2 separate regions of the Homo sapiens genome follow, and region 1 is linked to region 2. Evidence: fine-mapped expression QTL. Tissue or cell type: prefrontal cortex. Region 2 holds a variant in brackets; the other region holds the start of a gene. All regions are shown on one strand. Distances are between the middles of the regions. Region 1 holds the start of BRPF3-AS1 (BRPF3 antisense RNA 1). Region 2 overlaps BRPF3-AS1 (BRPF3 antisense RNA 1).

Region 1 (12,480 bases), 19 kb before region 2:
GGTCCTCCTCATCCATGTCATACTCTACCTCTGCATCCAGGTCTTCAGGTGGCTTCTCAATGTAGCGGTAGTAGGCAGCAGGCAGCGGGGGTGCTTCTGGCTGGATGCCTGAGTCCACCATACGGAAGCTGGGCTGTGGGAGGTGGAAGGAAGTACCAGATGCATGCTTGGAGCAGGATTCCTTCTTTTTGCCCTTGGATGAGGGTTTCTTGGACTTGCCAGGGAACTGAGGCTGTTCACTGTTTTCCTTGTTACTATTGCATTCGGTGATATCCTGGGCAGTTAGCTCATCTTCAGTAATGATTTTGAGTGGGTCATAGATGCTGATACGATGCAGGCGTCCATCAATGTCTACCTCGACAATCCGCTGGGCCTGGGCATATGTCAGGGTCTCCCGGGTGGGTGAGCACTTGAGACTGTAGGGGGACGGGGAACGCCGGCCCTCGGCATTCTGCCGGGACTTCCGACGAGGCTTCCTCATGGCACCTGGGAACTGAGGGGACAGGCCTAAGGAGAGAAGGCCAGGAGACTATGAGTTGGATGCCCTTATGCACCCATTCATCCTCCCATATGATCAAGCATCCACCAAGAGGACTGGCTTTTCCCTCTGTCTGAACAACTTGCCCCTCAGGCATCCACATGGCTTGCTCCTTCACTTCCTTTGAGTCTTTCATTTCTTCAAGTGAACAACACTTCTCAGTGAGACCTTCTCTGACCACTTTATCTAAAATTGCAAATCCTTTTCCTCCACCAGCAATCTACCTTTCATTCTGCTTTATTTTTCCCTTTAACATTCATCATCTTATACCATGCTACATAATTTACCTACTACTATGTTTATTGTTTCCTTCCTTCCACTAGAATATAAGCTCCATGAGGGGAAGAATTTTTGTTTGTCTTGTTCACTGCTGCATCCCCAGTTCCTGGAGCAGTGCTTAGCTCCTAAGTAACCACTCAATAAGTATTAGTTGAATGAAAGAAGAAATCAAACACACATGATCCCTGCCCTCAAGGAGCCCTGTCTAACTCAAAAGACAGAAAAGTAAACAGATTATTACAGTGTAACATGGGGAAAGATCTAATGTTCTAATGATGTACATAAAGCTGGGCGACAGCTAACTATGGAAAACACATGTAGTTAACGGTTTAGAAAAGAAAACAAGAAAAGCATCCACTGTCAAGCTCTGTACGTGAACAATGGGCCCCATCAGAGGATCAAAAGTCACTAGAGTCTTCTCCCAATACCTCTTACCACGATCAGAAACCCTACTCCTTGACCCTGCCTAGAGGTGAAGGGGTGAAGGCATCTGAAATATCTATGATACATGGTCTAAGGGCTTCAAACTACAGTATGCAGGGTATTCCCTACAAAAGACACCATCCAGGACAGCAGTCCCCAGCCTTTTTGGCACCAGGGACTGGTTTCGTGGAAGACAATTTTTCCACAGATGAGGGTGGGTGGTGAACACTGTTCCACCTCAGATCATCAGGCATTAGTCAGATTCTCATAAGGAGCATGCAACCTAGATCCCTCACATGCGCAGTTCACAGTAGGGTTCGCGCTCCTATGAGAATCCAAAGCAGCCGCTGATCTGACAGGAGGCAGAGCTCAGGTGGTAATGCTCGCTTGCCCGCCACTCACCTCTTGCTGTATGGCCTGGTTCTTAACAGGCCACAGTCTGCGGCCTGGGGGTTGGGAACCCCTGATCCAGGATACACCAACTAGTACATTTCCAGGCAGAAACAAACCCTAGAAGCTCTGAGAGTGGCTCCAAGAGATCTCTGAAGTTATAGTGGCCTGTCTAGGACCTTCATTCGACCGAAGGCCAAGATGATCTGGGCAGTATCTGAGGTAAACTCTCAATGCATTCTGTTACCTCAAAAGTCTCTCCCAGAACACTCATATCTAGTCTATCCTTGTACAGCCAAGAGAAAGTCCTAGTTTCCCCCATCATTCTCTGGATGACAAGCTCATAAGGAGCTGCGGTAGGCAGTTACCAAGGCTGTCACCACCAGGAGAGACCTTTGGGGATACAGGGCCCCATGGTGTGGGCAGACTTGGAAGGATATGAACAAAGAGAAGATTTCAAAGAGAAAAACAATTCATCGCCTTGGTTGCAGGGTCTACCATCTATATAAAGTAGAGACGGTGATAATAAAAGCACTTTTTCCAAACTACAAAGCCCTCTTACTTTTAATATTTCTCACAACTACCTTAGGAGATGGTGTAGCTATTATCATCTACACAGAAGCTCAGAAAGATGTCACTCAACGTAAAGCTAGTAAGTGATAACGCTACAATTTGAACCCAGGTCTTCCGATGCTCAATTCCTCTCAGTGGGAATTAAGAACACCACAGAGGTGCTATGGTCTGGTACAAAACGAGGCTCTGGGGCAATCTAGGTTCTAATCTTGGCCCTCTGTGACCTAGAGAAAGTCCCTTAAGCTCTCTATGCCTCCATACTCCATCAGTAAAATGAGGGTAACACAATCTAGCTCTCTAGGTGCTACTTGTTAATAAGGTATTATTAACATCTTTACTTGAAAGGCCTTCCAATCCCAAAGTGTGACTGAAACAAACAAAAAACCAATTTGGCTGAGGAGCAGTGCCAGGCGGGCTGGCACACACCCCATTTGGAGCCAAAGGAAACAGAATCATCGCAGCAATTCTGTCCGGGTTCCAGAGGCCCTTGGCTACTGGATTCCTTACAAATGCCAAGTCCCTGGGGGCAGACAGGGCCAACAGACCTGCTTCATCACCCACCCCTCCAAAGGCACCGAGGCCCTAGAAGAGGTGAGAACATCTGCCTCCACACCGACCCCAAACAGCGCAGACAGGCGGTGCGGCGCCCACTTTCATGAAAGCCGCTCCATCTTCTCCTTCCCCACCTGCCACCTCCTCGGCTGCTCAAGCATCTCTCGACCATGCAAGACTCTACACAGACGTGTTTTGTCCCACCCACGCCTCCAGACACCGGGGAGAAACTCTAGAGGGGGAAGGGACTGCTGATGAGGGAAATGAAAAGAGTTTCGCCCACAAGGAGCTTACAGTCTAGACGAGTTTTTTGGCGGGAGTTTCTCAACCTACACAGCCCTTCCCACATACACACCTCCAAAATATCTCCAACAACCCCCGCCCCCCCAGATTTCCCCTCGGCACCCCCTGACCCCTCGCTCACCCACCCCATCCAGGTCCCCGAAGAATGAGGAGCTTCTGCAATTAGACTGTATCCCCTGCACCTCACACAAGATACTCAGGAGACAAGGAGGACCCCAGCCAAGGCTCCTGCTCCTTTAAGGGGGCACCTCTTCCAGAAGAATCTTGACCCCTCGGAGAAGAAAGGAGGGAAATAACATCTCCTCAGAGGGGAGGGGCGAGCGCACCAGAGACAGCCTGACGTGGAGTCCGACCCTCAGACAGAGAAAGCGAGCGCCAGCGAATGAGCGGGGCGGAGAGGCGAGAACCCATTGGCTGCGTCACCTGCCCGTCAGAGGGACCCAGGGGACCTAGGGCCGCTCAAGGGGCGGGACTCTCGTCTGGCCAGGCCAATTGGAAGGCGTGGCGGGGGCGGGGCTTAGCGGCTCGGAATCCAGGGCTGGGGGGGGAGACAAGATGGCGGCTGCGGGAGGGGGTCCTCGCTTCTCAGCTCCCCCGCTCACCCGCCTTCTCCTTCCCTGCCGCCGCCCTCGCTCCAGGAGAGAGCTTTCGCACCGCCCCCGCCCTGCTCGGAAAGCCCCCCGCTTCTCCGGTTTCCCCCCGTGCAGTCCCTGGTCCCCGAAGGCCCCGATGCCCCCGCCCCCGCTCTGTCCGGCCCCGCTGCCGCCCCCATTACCTCAGCCGCCTGCCCGGCCCCACCGTTCGGGGCCCCTGGGCGCGGGCGGGCAGGCCGCCGAGCAGGTCGGCGCGGCCCGGGAAGCGGAGCGCGGTCTTCTCCCGCGCCTGCCTCCGTGGCCTCCGCCGTGCCCCCTCCCGGCCCGCGCTGGGGCCCCGGCCCGGCCGCCGCCGCCGCTCCCGGGGGAGGAGGGGGAATGGAGCCGCCGCTGCTGCCGCTGCCGCCACGGAGCCCGGCCGAGGGGAGGGAGGGATCAGCCCCCAGGCAGGATCCGCCCCTCCGGCCTCCCCCCGCCACCTCCACCCCTTCCCTCGCTCCCTCCCTGACTCTGCGGGCTCTCCCGCTGAACAGGAGCGAGAGCGCGAAAGAGGGGGAAACGGGAAAAAAATCCCCCCGCCCGTGCCTGGCGCGGCGGCGGCCGGGGCGGTGCGGAGAGGAGCGCGGAGGCGCCGCCGCCGCCGCCACGGGGCACCATCCCCGGCTCGGCCTCACGGTGGCGGTGCGGGCGCGGCGGGGACACCGAGCAAGAGACCGGGTCTGCGCCCGCCGCGATCCCTGCGCACCACGGCCCTGCCCGCCACGGGGCGAGCCCGATAAGAGGGCTGTGGACGTTCGGGTCTAGTTGGGAGAGACAGGGGTCCCTGACTCTTGAGCGGTCAGTCATTTCCTCCCCAGTCCTTGTGGGTGACGTGGCTACGGTTTGGAGCAGCAAGCCCCCTCCCCGAACTAAAGGGCCTCTCCAAAGGTTAAGCCAGGGCAGTCATTGAGGTCAAAACCAATATGTAGTTTCTTGACTGCAGGTGCCTGCACGACTCCCAGAAAGTCGCGTCTCCCCTAACCCCCATGCCCAGGACCTGAGGACAAAGGTCTAGCGATTGTCCATCCCCTCCCCCAGTGAGGACAGCCGGGAAAGACCTGCCTTTGTTGTGTACAGGTGAGCGTCTTGTTCCGCACCACACATCTTTTAAAAAAAAAAAAAAAAAATCTGACTTTCCGTTTAAAAGGAGTAAACAAAAGTTTGACAGTCTGCTTAAGCATGCCTGGTAACTCGTCTGTCACTGTGGGCATGGGAAACACTTTAAACCTGACTTGGTTAATTTAATGCATTAGGCGGCTTTCTAAAAGATGCTTGACAAATGGCAGCATCAGACCAAACTGGCTTTTGTTTTGATCTAAAAAAACAAAAAAATAAAGAAAAGGGCTCCATTGCCACCCCCTTTTGCCTGTAAACTGGAAAGCTTACCTCATGTGACTGAAGTCTTAAGCACCAATACATAATGATGTTTATAAAGGACGTATGGATAAGCTGCCTGTAAATGTGAAGGTGAGTGACAGTTTGAAAGTGTTTCCTCTGCTGGCACTTGTGGTGTAGCTGGTGAGACTCAATTTCTTTCTTGGTTCTGATGATCAAGGACATGTATTCTAGAGTCAGAAGGATGAAGGATAAAGTCTTAGGATCCAAATTTTCTGAATGTTTAAAGTGAACATACTGCTACTTTGGAAGTATAGATGTTATACTAAGGAATTTAAATATAGAGAGTTTCAAATTCAAAAGTTTGATTAAGGAAGCTAATTTGTTTCCAAGTAAATAGCATCTTCTGGCAAAGAGATAGTACAAAAATGCTTCTGTTAACCAATTTTTTAAATGCAAGGGGGGTGGCTCGTGGAGCTAAGCAAGGGCAGGACAATGTTTTGAAAGCTGTGAAGATGAAATAGTATGAATTAATGTCAAGTGTTCTGAAGCTAGGGGGAATAATCATTTGGAGGGAAGGTGTGGAAGAAAAAGATGATTAATTGTGGAAGAGAAAGCCCCAGAGGCAAGAAAATATTGCAATTACAGTACTTGTAGTTAAGAAAAAAAAAGTCTGAAAACTAACAGAAACTATTAAAACATGAAATATAATAATCATTTATACATATGACTAGTAACTTTTATTTCTTGATGGATGTTCTCAAAATTTATTTAGCACAATTCCCATTTGCGTGATCAGGAGCTATCTTTTTCCACTAAAATGAATGAATAAATACCTTGAGAAAATGCATTGGTTTCTACTTGTAAGTCAACGATTTAAATGCTGTTGAAAAGGCCTTAAGTCAACCTAATGCATGTGATTTTTTTCAGGTTTTTCTATTCAAAGCTTTCATATTAAGACCTTATTCAACCTAAGTGTTTCTCTTCCATTTTCAACTTCTACTTTTTTAATGATATCATTACAGTTGCCCTCACTTTAATTTTTGACATTTGGAATTGGTTTCTACAAGCATAACTGCACACGTAACCAGTTCCCTGTGATGGAATCTTAAATGTAACATGGAACAATTATGTTATTAAAAACAAATTTGGAACATATATCAAAAATCTCAGAGGCACTAAATTTAATTCACTTTAATCGTTTGCTATTTTAAACGGTTTAAATTCACCACCCCTGGCCTTTCCAATAAACCATACAGCAATTAAATTCAACAAACAGAGGCATGGATCTTTGATTCCAAATAGTTGTTTTTAAGAACCTTCCAGCTGTAAGTAGAAACCAACTTATTTGGGATAGGAGAAGGTTTTACCATTTAAAACTAAAAGAAACATGAATACAAAAAAAAATCACCATTTCCCCACCTCTTTCTTTCATACTTCCCCATCATACTTTTTTTCAGCATCTCAGGATATCTTTGTTAATGCTTCACTATTGTCATTAGTTTATCAGGCCAAGAAACCTCTCAGGGGTCAGACGCAGTACCCACTGGATTAATAACGTGGATGATAAGGAAAAAAATAGGCCTTGATTGATTGTTAAATTATTTTTAATAGAATATTCCTTCCTTAGATACTTGACTAAAAGAATTCTGAAACCACAGTTGGGAGGAATGTTTGAGGTTGGAATCATTGTGATACTTTTTTTTTTTTTTTTTTTTTTTTTGAGACGGAGTCTTGCTCTGTCGCCCAGGCTGGAGTGCAGTGGCGGGATCTCGGCTCACTGCAAGCTCCGCCTCCCGGGTTCAAGCCATTCTCCTGCCTCAGCCTCCCAAGTAGCTGGGACTACAGGCGCCCGCCACTACGCCCAGCTAATTTTTTGTATTTTTAGTAGAGACGGGGTTTCACCGTTTTAGCCGGGATGGTCTCGATCTCCTGACCTCGTGATCCGCCCGCCTCGGCCTCCCAAAGTGCTGGGATTACAGGCGTGAGCCACCGCGCCCGGCCGATACTTTTACACTAATTAAAATGGTTTAAGAATGTAAAGTTTGCTTGGAAAATGGGAAAAGTTTAGCTAGGTTAACAACAGGTCTTAAATAGAGTAACATACCACACTCTCTAGATTTAATTCCATTTATGTATTTCTAAAACGTATTCATTGACCACTTAGAGTGTGTCTAATACTGCACAAGTTCTTTGGAAAATAATGACAAAATCTCAACCTAGAAAGGGACTAATGATCATAAGTATAGATAGAATATATTTTTTCTTGCCTTGAGTAGTGTGCAATCCAGAATGGTAGAAATAAGTAGAAAACACATACAAGAAAAAATAGATAAGGCAGTGAAGAGTATGGAGCCACCATTATTCAAAGAAGGCTTCTTGGAGAATGGGAGACTTCTTTAAGCCAAGTTCTAAATCATGATGGATGTGAACTGGTGAAAAGAGTGTAAAGTGACATTGGGTTGGTGACAGGACAGTCCAGGCAAAGGGAAAATATGCAGGGAATAATGCGGAAATTATCCTAGCTGGTATGTATGGGCAGATGATAAGAAAAAGATTGAATTGGGTAGGAGGTATGGCAAGGGGACAGGGATAATAAAAATAATACCTAACACTTATGTACAAGGTACTGTGCTTAGTGCTTTATATACTCCATTTATTAAAGATCTTTGTTGCAGTTAGCAGAAAACCAACTTAAGTGAGTTTAATAAAGGAAATAAACTCTCATAACCAGAAAGTCCAGGGGTGCATCTAGCTATAGACAAGATCGAGTCAAAGGACTCGAATTATGTCATCAGCATACTGTATCTTGCAATTTCTCAGCCATCCTGAGCCAATAACTGTGGCCAGAGGGACATGCTGCTTGTCATGTATCAACTCCTAAAACCAGAGGACATGAGCAGGAGAAGATTGTACAATGGGGTAGTAGGTACATGTACAAACTAGGTCCAATATGCACACCATATCTTATTTATCAACTTACTAACTCTATAAAATGTTACTGTTATCCTCTTTATGTATTGGAGAAAGTAGAACAGGAGATCCGGTAAACCTGGAAGAGTTTACTATAGGTAATTAGGCATTATGAAAATAAAAAGGCATTAAGCAGAATGATGGAAAATGTGTTAGAGAAAGAGGAAAAGGAAAGGTCAAATCAGAAATCAGATGACAAAGCAACTGTTTTGTCTGATTGGACATAAGAACAAAGGAGAAGATTGAAGAAGAATCTAAGTTCAAACTTTGTAGGTTCTCACAGTTTGGTACAATCATTGCAAATTAAGAGGTGGCAAAGGGTTGCTCGGGAGCTCCTATTGGAGGTGGGAACCTGAGGATTGAAGAAATGATGAAATCAGCTCAAGTTCTCTGGAACCTCTTTTGGTCACACTGAAATACATATTTATTCAATTACTATTTGTGAGCTGCTGGTAAGGTTCTATTTTATGGCTGTAAAGGCCACAAAGGTGAAAAGAGTATGCTTGCAGACTTGAAGGCATTTAGATTCTAATCACAGTATAAAGCAAGGGTATTTATAACTGGAACGTGCTACAATATAAGCACTTCAAGAGAGATGCAAACGAAGTGCCAAAGTTTGGAGGAGGGAGTGAGCTCGTCTGTTTAGGAGAAGAGGGAAGGCTCTGTGAAGAAAGTGCTATCTGAGCTCTACCTGAAAGCTCTCAGGTAGGTGTGTCAGCTAGAAAGATGGTAGAGGGAGTGTGGTCCAGGCTGAGCCACCCGCATGAGCAAAGAGGAAGAACGTATCAAAGAATAAAATTTCAACAAATGAGTCCCAAAGATCCAATTGGCTTTATTAGCTGTTTATGAACTGGGCAACATCCAGTCTACAAAATAGAAAGGAGTTCCTATGAGCTAAACAAGTAGGTGAGTTTTATAGGCAGAAAGAAGTGAAATAAATCAGGAACAATGAGCAAATAGCAGATTGGTCTTTTCAAGATTATTTTTCTTTATAGGAATGTAAATGAAATCTTGTTGGTTTAATGGGATTTGACTATCATCTCTCTCCTGATTTCTTGAAGAGTCAGATCTTACAGTAAAATACAGGTTTTGGTTTGGTGTCATGGAACCTCTCAGCATGAATGACTCCATTTGGGGTCTGCTGTCTTTTCTTTAACACATGGAATGCCATAAGATTGTTTCAGGAAACAGTGGGTTACCCATTGACCCAAAAATGAGGGATATGAGAGAGAAGGCTGGTAAGGTAAAGTCAGAGCATGGAGACTGTTGGTTGGGTAGGGAGCTAGACATGAAGGGGCAGGAGACCCTGATGATTTTTGGAACAGGGAAATGACTTCAATAGTTCCATGCTTTAAGTTCTAGTCAGGCAAGAGAGTGTGATACGGTATGGTTTAAATTAGCTATCCAGTGTGGCTTGCATTATCTTCTGAACTTGAATTCTAGCTAGAACATTTTACCATATACTCAGTGGAATGCTAAACCAAGCAAGCATGAAAGCAAGTAGTATGTGACAAGTATAAATTGTTCAACTTGATCTAATGTCTTATCTTTTCAACCTTTAATTAGGATTTCTATTAAATCCTAAACTCTTAACTGTGAGTGAAGCCAGGACACTATAAAATATAATTCCATATTTTAGCAGAAGTACCAACCCTAAAAGTAGCCATCTTCTTGGCATAATTTTACTAAAGGGAGAGAAAATACACAAAAATAATAGCACATACTAAACTAGAACCTGCATTTTGACAAGATTTCCATAAGTAATTTATATGCATATTAAAGTTGAGAAACAGTGAATTAGAGGATTTTAGAGAATTCCAGGATTAAAATACTCTGAGAAAAAGGTAAAGTTAAAGGATTAATATTAGCTTTTGATTACTCCAGAATACCTATAATAATAAAATACATGTTTCCATTTATATGAAATTCTGGAAAATGCAAACTGCTCTATAATGATAGCAGATTGGTGGCTTCCTGGATGTGAAGGGGAGGAGGGACTATAAAGGGCATGAGGAAACTTTTTGGAGTGATAGAAACATTCTGTAAGTTGATGGCAGTGGTGGAGAAACAGGTATATATACATTTGCCAAAACTTAAACTGTACAGAGTAGCTGTCTTTTATTTTACATAAATTTTACCACAATTAAGTTGATAAAGCATACCTGTTGCAATTTTTAGACTAATCATTAACATTAAAAGAATGAAAAAATGAGGATGTAACTCACAAACTAGTACAGAGTAAAAAAAGAATAAAAAATTCGACCAACCTAAAAGAAGTCAAGGAAAGAAAAGGAAATATAGTAAAGGTGAAACAAATAGAAAACAATGAAATGATGGCAAATTTAAATTCAATTTACAATTTACATTGTACATTGTAGAAAGAGTAGTCCACAATGAGTGGGACATTTCTGGAAAAGTTTAATGATTGCATGGTTAAAATAATGTCTGGCTTGACAACATGCATTGGTCCCCACTCCCTCCCCTAACTTCAATAATGTTAGTAAAGGATAAAAAAATCCACAAGACAATGAAATCCACAAGAACAAAGAGAATGAGGGAAAACAACAGCAGGTGAGATTTACTATCTCAAGAAATTGAACTAAAGAAGTTCTAGACTTGGGGCCACCAGGAACCAATGAAGACAGCGATGAAGTGTCATACTGAAAACGGAAATTAAAGGGAATCTCTGCATACTAAATAATAAGATGCTCCCCCGAGCCCCAATCATCACCATCACATGTTCTTCCCTAGACTGATGAGGGAGGGGAAATCTGGTACAAATTGCTGGAATCTGGTGGTGCAGAAGGGGGCTAAGAGAAAATTTCATGAAAACATTTCTAGTCAGTCCATCCTTTTAGTTGAAATAAATGTTTCATAGATCAAAATTCTTAGTGGTCCTGCCTCTTCCCCCAATCACATTGCAAAACACTGGAAGCCAGGTTTATTTTAGAATTTTGCTAGTGTTTGTTTTTGTTTTTTGAGATGAGGTCTTGCTCTGTTGCACAGGCTGGAATGCAGTGGTGTGATCACAGCTCACTGCAGCCTCAACCTCCCAAGCTCAAGCGATCCTCCCACCTCAGCCTCCTGAGTAGCTGGGACTACAGGGACACAGCATCATGCCTCGATAATTTTTTTTAAGAGACAGGGTCTCACTTTGTTGCCTAGGCCGGTCTTGAACTCCTGTGCTCAAGCAGTGCTCCCAACTTGGCCTTCTAATGTGCTGGGTTCGTAGACGTGAGCCACCACCCGCAGCCAGAACCTTGCTACTTAGATTATTGTTCAAGAACCGATAGTATTGACATCTCCTGGGAGTTGGTTAAACATGTGGAATTTTAGGCCCCACTCTAGACCTACCAAACCAGAATCTGCTTTTTAAGATCTCCCTACATGTTTCATATGCATATTAAGATTTGAGAAGCAATGGATTACAGAATGTTAGAGAATACCATGATTCCTCTCTGAAGATGGAGAAAAGACCTATTTATGAATACTGGCGATGGAACATCTTCACTAAAACATCCAGCTTGTCACCTTTTGCCTTATGCTGAAGCTCACCTGGTATCAAGCATTCCCCACCCCTACCCCAACACACATAGAGTTTTAAACAGCTTTAAAAAAAACTACCTCTTAACATTGAATAAACAACCAAAAACCAACAGATATATGAAGAAAGTATCATGAAGGTCAGAATCCAAGAAAAAAGAATGGGGAAAACAATATAGAGAACCAAAGAAGTCTTAACAAACAAACAAAAATCTCTAAGAGCCTCAAAGAGTAGCTGGCTGGGGTGATGGTTCATGCCTAATAATTCCAGCACTTTGGGAGGCCAGAGTGGGAGAATCGCTTGAGGCCAGGAGTTTCAAACCAGCCTAGGTGACATAGCAATACCCTGTCTTCATTTAAAAAAAAAAAGTGCTGGGCATGGTGGCTCAGGCCTGTAATCCCAGCACTTTGGGAGACCAAGGTGGGCGGATCGCCTGAGGTCAGGAGTTTGAGACCAGCCTGGCCAAAATGGCAAAATCTCATACCTACTAAAAATACAAAAAATTAGCTCGGCGTGGTGGTGGGCACCTGTAACCCCAACTACTCAGGAGGGTAAGGTAGGAGAATTGCTTGAACCAGGGAGGCAGAGGTTGCAGTGAGCAGAGAGAGTGCCACTGGACTCCAGCCTGGGCAACAGAGCAAGACTCCATCTCAAAAAAAAAAAAAAAAAAAATGGGGAGGCCAGGCACTGTGGCTTACACCTGTAATCCCAGCACTCTGGGAGGCCAAGGTGAGTGGCTCGATTGAGCCCAGGAGTTCAAGATCAGCATGGACAACATAGAGAAACTCTGTCTCTACTAACAAAAAAAAAAATTAGCCAGATGTGCTGGCATGTGCCTGTGATCCCAGCTAGTTGGGAGGCTGAAGCGGGAGGATTGCTTGAGCCCAGGAGGTTGAGGCTGCAGTGAGCCAAGATCGCACCACTGCACTCTGGCCTGG
Region 2 (12,004 bases):
GGATATTTAGCCCCACCTCCCAACATCCAAGGAGGGGAGAGAAGCTGAAACTCAAGTTGATCACCAATGGCTAATGATTTAATCAGTCATGCATATGTAATGAAGCTTCCATAAAAACCCAAAAGGACTGGGTTTAGAGAACTTCCAGATAGCTGAACATGTAGAGATTCCTGGAAAGTGGCAGGCCTGGAGAGAGCATGGAAGCTTCATGCCCCTTCTCTCATACCTCACCCTATGCATCTCTTCCATTTGGCTGTTATCTATATCCTTTGTAATATCTTTTATAATAAATGGATGAATGTAAGTAAAGTGTTTCCCTGAGCTGAGTGAGCTGTTCTAGCAAATTAATCAAACCCAAGGAGGGAGTCATGGGAATCCTCAATTTATAGCCAATTGGTCAGAAACTCAGGTTGCACAATGTAAGCACAATCTATGCTTGCAACTTGCATCCAAAGTGGAGAGGAGTCTTGTGGGACTGATCTCTCAACCTATGGGTAGAGAACTCCGGGTGGATAGTGTCAGAATCAAATAGAACTAAAAGACACTCAGATGTTATCTGCTGCAGAACTGATTGCTTGCTTGATGTGTGGGTATAAACCCCCACACATCTGGAGTCACGGAAGTGTTCTGTGTTGTGAGGGTATAGTAGGAGAAACTGAGTTTGTTTTTTTCCATACCAAGTACCCCTTTAATCTTTAATGTGAATAATTGTTTCCCTAATATTAAACCATTCTCTTAGCAATGGAAAATTCTGCTTACAAAAAATATATGTATTAAACCATTCTTGCATCCCTGGATTAGCCTGACTTTCTCATTATTTATTACCTTTTTAAAATATCTCACTGATTTGGTTTGCTAATACTTTAATATTTTTACATATAGGCTCCAAAGTGAGATTGTCTATAATTAGATTGTTTAGGGAATCAAGTTTTATTTACCTCATAAATGAGTCGAGAATATTTTCTCTTTTTCTATTTTCTATAAGAGTTTGTATAACATTGGAATAAGCTGTTTATTGAAAAGTTGGTAGAACTCACTATCTTACTGTGTTTCTGCTGCTGTAACAAAATACCTGACACTGGGTAATTTATGAAGAAATGAAATTTATTTTCTCACAGTTCTGGGGGCTGGAAAGTCCAAGATCAAGGTGCCAGCAGGTTTGGTGCCTGGTGAGGACCTAGTTTCTGCTTTCAAGTTAGCGCCTTGTTGCTGCCTCTTTCAGGGGATGAACACTATGTCCTCACATGGCAGAAGAGATGAAAGGGCAAAAGGAACTGACTAGTTCTTTGGGCCCTTTTATAAAGTCACTAATCCCATTCATGAGGACTCCACTTCATGAATTAATCATTACCTAAAGGGGTTACCTCTTTGTTTTATTATCCCCCCTGTTTTGACACAGAAGAATTACCTACCTCTTAATACTATTATATTGGTGAGACTGCTTCAACTTGAAACAATATGAGTTTTAGGGGACATTCAGATCATATAAATTATTTAATCCTGATGGCTTCATTGTAAGAAGATTTTTATTAACTTCAATTTCTTTACTGGTCATAGGACTTATTTCTTCTTGAAGTATGTTTTCCTAGGATTTTGTTCATCTAAGTTTTAAAAAACTTTTTTTTTCATCTCTGATCCTTCTGTAGTTATGTCCCCCTTTGCATTACTAATATTTTTTCTCCCTCTCTCTTCTCCCCTCCCCCTGCCCCCTGTAGTTTGTCAATTTTATTAGTTTCTTCCCTATGTAACAAGCTTTGAATTTGTTGATCCCCTCTATTGTACTTTTTAAAATACTTTTTAAAAATATCTCATTTTATTTTGTTTTTATAGGTGGTATCTCACTGTGTTATCCAGACTGGACTCAAATTTCTGGGCTCCAATGGTCCTCTCACCTCAGCCTCCCAAGTAGTCAGGACTACAGGTACACACTACTGTGCGTGGCTATTGTATTTTCTTGATTGTTGCTTTAATAATTTTTATGTGCTTCCTTTTACTTTCTTTGAGTTCATTCTTTATTTTCTACTGTCATCGGTTGGGTGCTTAATTATGTCATTTTCAGGTTTTAATTTCTAATATAAGCATACAAGACTATATAAGTTTACCTTGAATTACCACTACTATTTTGTTTCCCAAGTCTTGATACACAGTATTTTTATTATTGTTCATTTCTAAATATTTTTTACACTTTTATTACAATTTCATCTTGGATTGAAGTATTGTTTCAGGAGTATGTTTAATTAAATTTTGAGATAATTATAGATTCACATGCAGCTGTAAGAAATAATAGAAAGAGATCCTGTGTACACTTTACCCAGTTTCCTCCCAATTTGTAAAATTTCTCCTATTTGTAAAACTATAGAAAATATCACAATCAAGATACTGACATTAATGAGAAATCAGCTGTTAGTTTTACCGAGGATCCCTTATATGTGATGAATTACTTCTCTCTCACTGCTTTCAAGATTCTGTTTGTCCTTCGCTTTCAACAATTTGATTATAATGTGTCTAGGTGCAAATCTTTTTGAGTTTCTCGTATTTTGAGTCTGCTGAGCTTCTAAAATGTGTAGATTAATGTTTTTCACAAATTTGGGGAGTTTTGGCCTTTTTTTCTTCCAGTATTCTTTTTAGGTCTCTCCCCTCTGCTTCTTTGATTTATTTTATATGTATGATAGTACACTTCATGGTGTTTCACAGATCTCTGAAACTCTTCATTTTCTTTATTCTTTTTCTCTCTGTTTTTCATATTGGGGCATCTCAATTGACCTTTCTTCCAGTTTGCTGATATTTCTTTCTGCTAGCTTGAATCTACTATTGAGCTCCTCTAGTGAATTTTTCATTTCAGTTATTGTACTTTTCAACTCTGGAATTTCTGTTTGGTCCTCATTTATAATTGTATCTTTGTATCAATATTTTCTAGTGAGACATTATTCTCATGCTCTTCTTTAGTTCTCTAGATATAGTTTTCTTTAATTGTTTGAACACATTTATACTATCCTATTTAAAGTCTTTGTCTAGTAAATCCAACATCAGGGCTTCCTGACAGTTTCTATTCATTGCTTCCCCCCACCCAGCCCCCACGGTGTATAGGTTATTTTTCCTGTTTCTCTGCATATCTTATACACTTTTATTGAAAACTAGATGTTTTAAATAATAAAATGTGGCAACTCTGGAAATCAGATTCCCCCTCTTCCCCAGAATTTATTCTTGCAATTGCTGTTGCTCCTGTTTGTCTAGTTACTTTCCTAAATTAATTCTGTAAAGTCTGTATTCTTTGTAACGTTTGGCCACTATAGCCTCTGCTTTCTTAGCTTAGTGATCAGGTAATAAATGGACAGATATTTTCTTAAATGCTTTGAATTGATAAGTCTCCCAGCCTTTGCCAAAGGTCTGTGTGTGTGTGTTGGGACATATCCATAAAGCTGTACCACACACTAGACAACTCTGCTTTAGTCTTTACTTTCTGCTTGTGCAGAACCTCAAGGTCTGCCAGTGGTTAGAGATTAAGGTCTTCTCAAACCTTTCCTGGGTACGCACATAGTTCTGGGCAGGGATACAGCCTGTACATGCATGTGGTCACCTGTACATGCATGTGGTCATCTACATTTCCGGGAAATCTGATTAAGCTTTCCAAACACACTTATAAACTTCTTAATCCAGCTGGGCAAGGTGGCTCATGCTTGTAATCTCAGCACTTTGGGAAGCCGAGGTGGGCGGATAATTTGAGGCCAGGAGTTCGAGACCAGCCTGGTCAACATGGTGAAACCCCATCTCTACTAAAAATACAGTAATTAGCCGGGCATGGTGCTACATGCCTGTAATCATAGCTACTCAGGAGGCTGAGGCAGGAGAATCACTTGAACCCAGGAGGCAGAGGTTTGCAGTGAGCCAGGGTCGTGCCACTGCACTCCAGCCTGGGCAACAGAGCAAGACTCCATGTCAAAAAAAAAATCTTATTCCTCAGTTTTTCCTTATAATCTTTTTTTCCCCCAAATGTTATCACCTCAGGCACCTGAGATGTTAAACAATTGCCACTAATTGTTTTCCATAAATACTCCAAAGAAAAGGCTGTTCACAGTAAATGAACCCTGAGTCAGTTCCAATAAAGACCAACCCTGAGAGCCCCTGTGGTTTCCAGGAAACTGCCAGACAAGTCAAAGAATAACTAATGGAAGATGAGCATTTAGGGGAACTCCAAGCCCATTCTGCCTGCTTCAGTGACTGCTAGGTTGCTGGTTTTCAGGGTTACCATGATTGAAGGTTGTTGGTTTCCAAGGCTACTATGGAACTACAGAAAGAGGGATGGCAATAGGACAAGTTAAAATGCCACCAGTCTTGCTCTTCTTATGAGATTTAGCC[A/G]TGTGTGTGTGTGTGTGTGTGTGTGTGTGTGTGTGAAAATGCTCCTCAGACTTTTGTGAGCCTTTGGTTAATTTTCAGAGTTCTAAAAATGTTGATTTTAACAATTTTTTGCCAGTGCTCTCATTGCTTTTCTGAAGAAATCAATTTTTGGCGATTTTTACTCCACCATTCTGAATGCAGTTCCAATCATATTGACATTAATACAGTCAAGATACAGAACAATTCCATCACCACAAGGATCTCTTGTGTTGTTCTTTTACAGCCACGTGCATTTCCTTCCTATTACTGTCTTAGGCCCTGGCAACCACTAATCTGTTCTCTATTTCTATAATTTTGTTATCTCAAGAATTGTATAAATGGAACCATGCAGTATATAGCCTTTTGGGATTTTTTTCACTCAGCATGATTCCCTGGGGGTTTATCCAGATCATTGCCTTTATCAATAATTTGTTATTATTGCTAAGGAATAATCCATAATATGGATGTACCACTCTTTATTCACCCACTGAAGAACATCTGAGTTGTTTCTAGTTTAAGGATTTATGGATAAAGCTGCTGTGAATATTCATATACAGGTTATTATATGAATATAAGTCTGTCTTTCTCTGAGATAGATGCCTAGAAGTGTAATTGTTGAGTCATACTTCATTTAGTTTGTTTTTTTTTAAGAAACTGCCAATCTGTTTTTCAATTCAGCTCTACTATTTTACATTCCCACCAGCAATATATGAATGATTTGGTTTCTCTGCATACTTGCCAGCATTTGATGTTGTCAAAATTTTTTATTTTAACTAGAGAGAGTATATGCTAATATTTTATTGTGGCTTTAATTTGCATTTCCCTAATGGCTAATGATATTAAACATCTTTATATGTGCTCATTTGGCATCTAATTGGATTATTTTTTACTGTTGAGTTTTGAGGGTTCTTTTGAGAGTATATTCTGGATACTAATCCTTTGTTGGATATGTGGTTTTCTTCAGTTTTTAGCCTTTCTTTTTATCTTGTCAACAGGGTTTCTGAGAAAGCAACAGTTTTTTAATTTTTTATAGAGTCCAATTTATCAATCTCTCCTTTTATGAATTATGTTTTGGTGTCAAGTCTAAGAAATTGTTGCTAGTGCTAGGTCTCAAATATTTTCTCCTATTTTTTTTCCTAAAAGTTTTATAGTCTTGTTCTTTACACTTAAGTCTGTGATCTATTTTGAGTTAATATTTGTAGAAAGTATGAGACTTACTTCAAAGTTCATGTGTTTTTGTTTGTTTGTTTTGCATATGGATCTTCAATTACTCCAGTGCCGTATGTTGAAAAGGCTATCTTTTCGTCATTGAATTGCTTTTGCACCTTTGTCAAAAATCAGTTAGACATTTTTGTGTAGGTCTATTTCTGAGTTCTCTATCCTGTTATATTGATCTGTATCTCTCCCTCTGCCAATACCACACAGTCATGATTAGTGTAGCTCTATAAAAATCTTGAAATTGGGAAGACTGGTTCCCCCACTTTATTCTTTTTTCCAAATTATTTTGGCTATTCTATTTGTCTTTTCACATAAATTTGGGGACTAATTTTGTGTATTCTACATAAAACCTTGCTGAGATTTTAGTAGAAATTTTATTTAACTTATATATCAATCTGGGGAGTATTGACATTTTTAGAAGTGTGTTTTTAAATTTATAAATACATGGAGAGTTCCTTTCTTTTCTTTCCTTCCTTCCTTTCTTTCTTTCTTTCTTCTTTCCCTTCCTCCCTTCCTTCCTTCCTTCTTTCTTTCCTTCTTTCTTTCTTTCTTTTCTTTCTTTTCTTTCTTTCCTATGGAGTCTCGCTGTGTTGCCCAGGCTGGAGTGCAGTGGCACGATCTCGGCTCACTGCAACCTCCGCCTCCCAGGTTCAAGTAATTCTCATGTCTCAGCCTCCCACGTAGCTGGGATTACAGGCACTTGCCACCACGCCTGGCTAATTTTTGTATTTTTAGTAGAGACAGGGTTTCACCATGTTGGCAAGGCTGGTCTTGAACTCCTGACCTCAGGTGATTCGCCCACCTCAGCCTCCCAAAGTGCTGGGATTACAGGTGTGAGCCAGCACAGACAGCCTTTTTCTTGATTATTAACATCTCATTTAATTCTAGTGTAGTCAGAGAATGCTATTATTATAGCAGTTATTTGAAATTTGCTGACACTTTATGGACTAGTATTTAATTTTTATAAATGTTCCACATGTGCTTGAAAAGAATGAATATTCCCTAATTTTTAGATGTTCTATTGTGTTCTATTGTGTGATCAAAAACTAATCCTGCCAGCCTGGCCAACATAGTGAAACCCTGTCTCTACCAAAAAATATAAAAATTAGCTAAGCATGGTGGCACATGCCTGTAGTCCAGCTACTGGGGAGGCTGAGGTGGAAGAATCACTGGAACCCAGGAGGTAGAGATTGCAGTGAGCCGAGATCGCACCATGGCACTCCAGCCTAGGCGACAGAGTGAGACCCTACCTCCAAAAATAAAACAAAACAAATTAATTGTGTTATTCAAATCTTTTTTATTTTTTTAACCAATTTTTTTGTGTACTTATAACCCCCTATTTTTAAAATTATATAACAAACTTCTTCCTTCCTAATAATGTTTTTGTCTTAAAATCCATTTTCTCTAATATTAATATAACTACCTCAGCTTTCTTTTGTTAGTATTTGTCTGGATTAGTCTTTTTCATCTTTTTGCTTTCAACCTGTTGACTTATGTTTTAAGTGAGCCTATTGTACAGTATATTAATGGACTTTGTTTTTATTTCAAATTTAAGTATCTCTGTCCTAAATGGCACTTTTAGGTCATTAACTTTATTGTAATTATGATATATTTGGCCTTATTTCCATCACCTTGCTTTGTGCTTTGTCCCCTTTTCATTATATTCCCCCCACCACACGCATATACACATTTCTTGTCTCATTTTAGATTTTTGCCAATCTTTCTTTCCTTCCTTCCTTCCCTCTCTCCCTCCCTCCCTCCCTCCCTCCCTCCCTCCTTCCCCCCCATTCTTCCTTTCTTTTCTTTCTTTTGCATATATCTTCTCTCTATTGGTTTGGAAATTATACATTCTAATTTTATTATTTCGTGGTTACCATTAAAATTTCACCATGCATACTTTAAAATGTCTTGAGCTAATCAAATCTGTAAGTCTTCTGAACAACATAGTTTCCCTCTGAGGTTCTGAATCTTCAGATTCAATCAATTGCTGATTTAAAATATTTGAAAAAAATTTGGCCAGGTGCGGTGGCTCATGCCTGTAATCCCAGCACTTTGTGAGGCTGATCACCTGAGGTCAGTTCAAGACCAGCCTGGCCAACATGGTGAAACTCCGTTTCTACTAAAAATACAAAAATAGCCAGGCGTGGTGGCAGGCACTGGTAATCCGAGCTACTTGGGAGACTGAGGCACAAGAATCGCTTGAACCCAGGAGGCAGATGTTGCAGTGAGCCAAGATTGCACCACTGCACTCCAGCCTGGGCAACAGAGTGAGACCCTGTTAAAAAAGAAAATTAGGCCTCAGTAAACCTGATATTTTTAAAAAGAAAAAAAGAAATTGTATAATTAACCACTTTTGCACACCAAATATAAATGGTACAAGTGGGGATGAGGAATTTTAAAATTCATTAAAATGTATAAATATATACCCAACGAGGAAAGAAATATGGGTAGAGGTGACAGTCCCTATTCTGTAATTGCTTATGGGGCTGTGGTTGACATGTATAAATTTTCCTCTCTGTAATTTGTGTCATGTTCCCTTTGCCTTCACAAAAGAACTCAGTAAGTTGGAGTTTCTTACCAAACTCACCTCATAAGAATTACTTCCTTGGTAAATCTGTCTTCAGGGATATAGCAGTCTTCCATTAACTTTTTCCGTTGGATATGGTTGTTTAAGACCTGCTCCAGAATAGCAGACCTGAGTTCTATTAAGATTTTCCTATCCCGAGGTCAAGGCTATAGTGAGCCATGATAGTGCCACTGCACTCCAGCCTGGGTGAGAGAGTGAGACTCTATATCAAAATTTTTAAGATTTCCACATCCCCACTTTGAAGCAGCAGCCTTCTTTCCCATGATGATCAAGATTATTCAGGACCAGTCATCCCAGTCAACATCATGACCTTCTTTATTTTTTTTTTTGCCTGTGGTATAAGAGCCCAAAATGACCAGCAGTGGAAACATTGTTTTGTCTTCTTATAGAAGCAGTTATCTCTTGGATCCCCAAATGCCAAGTCAGCAGAGCCCCAAGTCATGGAGAGGAGAAGCAATAATTTGATGAGTAACAAACACATTAGACTTAATCATGAAAGATACTATCCCATTTCCACCCCATTGTTTCCATACCTGTACATTCTAATTACAGGAGAAGCCACACATACGCATACATTGGTTCATGATTCAGAACATATAATATATCCTGCATGCCAGTGCCCCAACCTCATGAGGTGTTGTCCCAATTGGAGGCACAGCTGGCTCTTCAGCAGGGCATTCTGCTATTCTCTAAGGCAAGCTGCCAGACTAGGCATGGTGGGAGCATGTGTTACTTATATTCAGACAGCTTATTGTATCTTCAGCTATGGCTGGAGCCTCATTCTGTATTTTATACCTCTTATAGCTCATGTTAAAATGTTGCATAGAATGCCCAACTTCATAGCTAGGTAGCTGAGACAACTCACAGTGGGCAGTTTTGATCTTAGCACTTGGACTCCCCCAGATCCCCAGAGCAAGGCTAGAGCAGTTTTCCAAAATGAAAATAATCACTTGCTTATGAGGCAGCGGCTTTGCTCCATTACTTTAGGGGCCTCCACTGCAATTCCTATTGAGGACTGTCACAGATTTCCTATCGCATTCACAATTGCCACTCATTTATGGAACACCATTGGATCCACGGGCTCATAAATGCTAAGGGAAGGAGCTTCCTATGTACTTCTGCATTATTTCAAGAAACTTCTGGCACCTCAACTTAGTGTGTTCCATTGTCAAGTGAACACCAGGTGGTTCTGGGTTTTGGTTAACCAGCTGAGCAAATTGTTAGAACTATTCCCTGCTGCTAGTATAATGAGTCCAAAATCATAAGGACATCCGCATCAGTAAATTCAGTCCCAAACTAAAACTATGTTCCTCCTCATTTGGTGGGCAGACACAGAATCCAGTTCTGCTATAAATGGGCAATATCCCTATATTTATTTTTGTGTGTAAAGCTTTTCCTAGGTTTGACTTGAACTTATATCTCTAAAAGCTTACTGGGATTTGTCTTTAGTTAGAGAGGATTGTCTTCCTCTTACAAGGAAAGGGGATAGATATGTTTTCGAACAAGGGAGAGACAGCTTCATCAGATAAGGGAGGAGAGAGAGACTTCTTCAGTGGGTAATGAAAGTGGAAGTGAATGTTGAGGCTAAACACAGGAGGGTAGTTGAAATAACAGCCCCTTCTACCCAAGTCCTAGCACAGACAGCACAGAATATTTTTCTAAAAAGAATAGAACACAAAGTCTGGAGGCAGCTAGTGTGATGTCGGCACCTCACCTAAAGCCCTCCTCATTCTGGAATTTGAGAACTTCATTGTAAAGTAAGATTCCTGCACTTTACCCAAAGCAATATAGGCCTCCCATGTACAGGGTCCTCAGTGAGATGTCTTCTTTTCTATTTTCACAATATGAGTAGAAAGCCAAAGATCACCAGACATTGAGAAAGGTCTATAGCATACAACTGGAAAATCAAAATTAAAAAAAAAAAGAAAGAAAAAAATCTGACACCAGAGACAATTCAGGAAATAGGTTAGAAACAACAAATAATTCATATTCTCAAAGATACAGCTTTTTTTAATTTAAAAAAGAATTATAATATTGTGAAACTAACAAAGAACAAGAAATAATTCTTGATAATTAAAAACATGATTGCTGATTTTAGGAAGATGATGGTAGCATAGTTTTTTTAAAGCAGCTTTATTGAGGTATACTTGGTATAAAATCATCTGCACATGTTTAAAGTATATAATTTATAAGCTTTGACATATGTATATACCCATGAAACCATCACAATCAAGATTATGAACATACAGTCACCTCCAAAAGCTTGCTCCAAAAGTTTGTAATTCCTTTTTTTTTTTTATTCCTCTGCCTCCCTGCCTGGTAACCAATGATATTCAAATGAAATGATATAGTATTACTATTTTGTCTGGCTTATTTCACTGAGTATAATTACTTTGAGATTCATCCATATCATGACATGTGTCAGTAGTTAATTCCTTTTCATCGCTTAGTAGTATTCCATTGTACGGTTATACCACAGTTTATGCATTCACCTGTGGATGCACATTTTGATTGTTTTCATTTTTTGACCATTACAAATAAAGCTGCTATGAATGTTTGAGAACAAGTCTTTATGGGCATATGTTTCCTTTCTCTTGGATAAATTCCTAGCAGTGGAATGGCTGAATCATATGGCAGGTTTATGCTCAATTTTTTTTTTCTTTAAGAAACTTCCAAATTGTTTTCCAAAGCAGTTTTACCATTTTTACATTCCCATCAACAGTGCATGAGAGTTCTAACTTTTCTACATCCTCACCAATACTTGGTATGGACAGTATTACAAAAAACTTTTTGGGACAGGGTATCACTCTGTTGCCTAGGCTGGATTGCAGTGGTGCGATTATGACTCACTGCAGCCTGGACACCTAGGCTCAAGTGATCCTCTGCCTCAGCCTCCTGAATAGCTGGGACTACATGCACCACCATGCCTGGCTAATTAAAAAAATTATTTTTTATAAAGACAGGGTCTCACTATGTTGCCCAAAGCGGTCTCCAATTCCTGGGCTCAAGCAGTCCTCCCTCCTTGGCTTCCCAAAGTGCTAGGATTATAGAGGTGAGCCATTACATCCGGGTACTATTTTTAATGGTTTAAAGCAACTTTATTGAGTTGTTATATAACTTACATACCACAAAATCCACCCATTTAAAATATACAGTTCAGTGACTTTTTAGCATCACAGAGTTGAGCAATCAACCTGACTATCTAATTTTAGAATTTTAGAAAAGGCCTCATCCCCATTAGCACTCACTTCCTACTCTGCCCTCTCCCTGACTCCATCTCCCATTCTAGGCAATCTCTAATCTGCTTTCTGTCTCTAGATCTGCCTATTCTGATTTCATGTAAGCTGCATCATACAATATGTGGTCTTTTGTGCCTGGCTTCTCTCATGTAGCATACTGTTTTCAAGGCTCATCCATGTTATTGCATGTATCAATACTTCATTCCCGTTTTAAACATTTTTTAAATTTTGAAATAATTATAGATTCACAGAAAATTGCAAAGATAGTACAGAGAGGTCTGGTGTACCCTTCATCCAGTTTCCCCCAGTGGTTACATCTTACATACTTACAGTACAGTGTCAAAACCAGGAATTTGACATTGGTAAAAAATAAAATGGTGTGCACCATTTTATCACATGTATAGATTCATATAACCACCACTGCACTCAACATACAGAACTATTCTATCACCATAACGCTCTTCCTCATTACTGCCCTGCTCAACATCCCTAAGCCCTAGCAACACTAATCTGATTTTCATCTCTATAGTTTTGTCATTTCAAGAAGGTTATATAAATGGAATCACACAATGTGTGAGATTGGCAT

Evidence for each region.
Region 1: BRPF3-AS1 starts here. The variant in region 2 is fine-mapped to the expression of BRPF3-AS1 in prefrontal cortex (CommonMind, PIP 0.95).

The regions. Positions count from the first base shown.
Region 1 is chr6:36,188,324-36,200,803 of GRCh38, reverse strand. BRPF3-AS1 (BRPF3 antisense RNA 1) reads left to right here and starts at 3,601. Exons shown (of 3, transcript NR_187147.1): 1 at 3,601-4,767. It overlaps BRPF3 (bromodomain and PHD finger containing 3), which reads right to left and starts at 4,060. Exons shown (of 13, transcript NM_015695.3): 1 at 3,834-4,060; 2 at 1-507. The coding sequence starts at 481. RefSeq lists an enhancer at 3,306-3,355 and a silencer at 3,706-4,445.
Region 2 is chr6:36,169,534-36,181,537 of GRCh38, reverse strand. It overlaps BRPF3-AS1 (BRPF3 antisense RNA 1), which reads left to right. Exons shown (of 3, transcript NR_187147.1): 2 at 1,831-1,921. Among named protein-coding and RNA genes, the nearest start is that of BRPF3, 21 kb to the left of the region's middle. The variant A/G (reference allele first, on the strand shown) is at 4,357.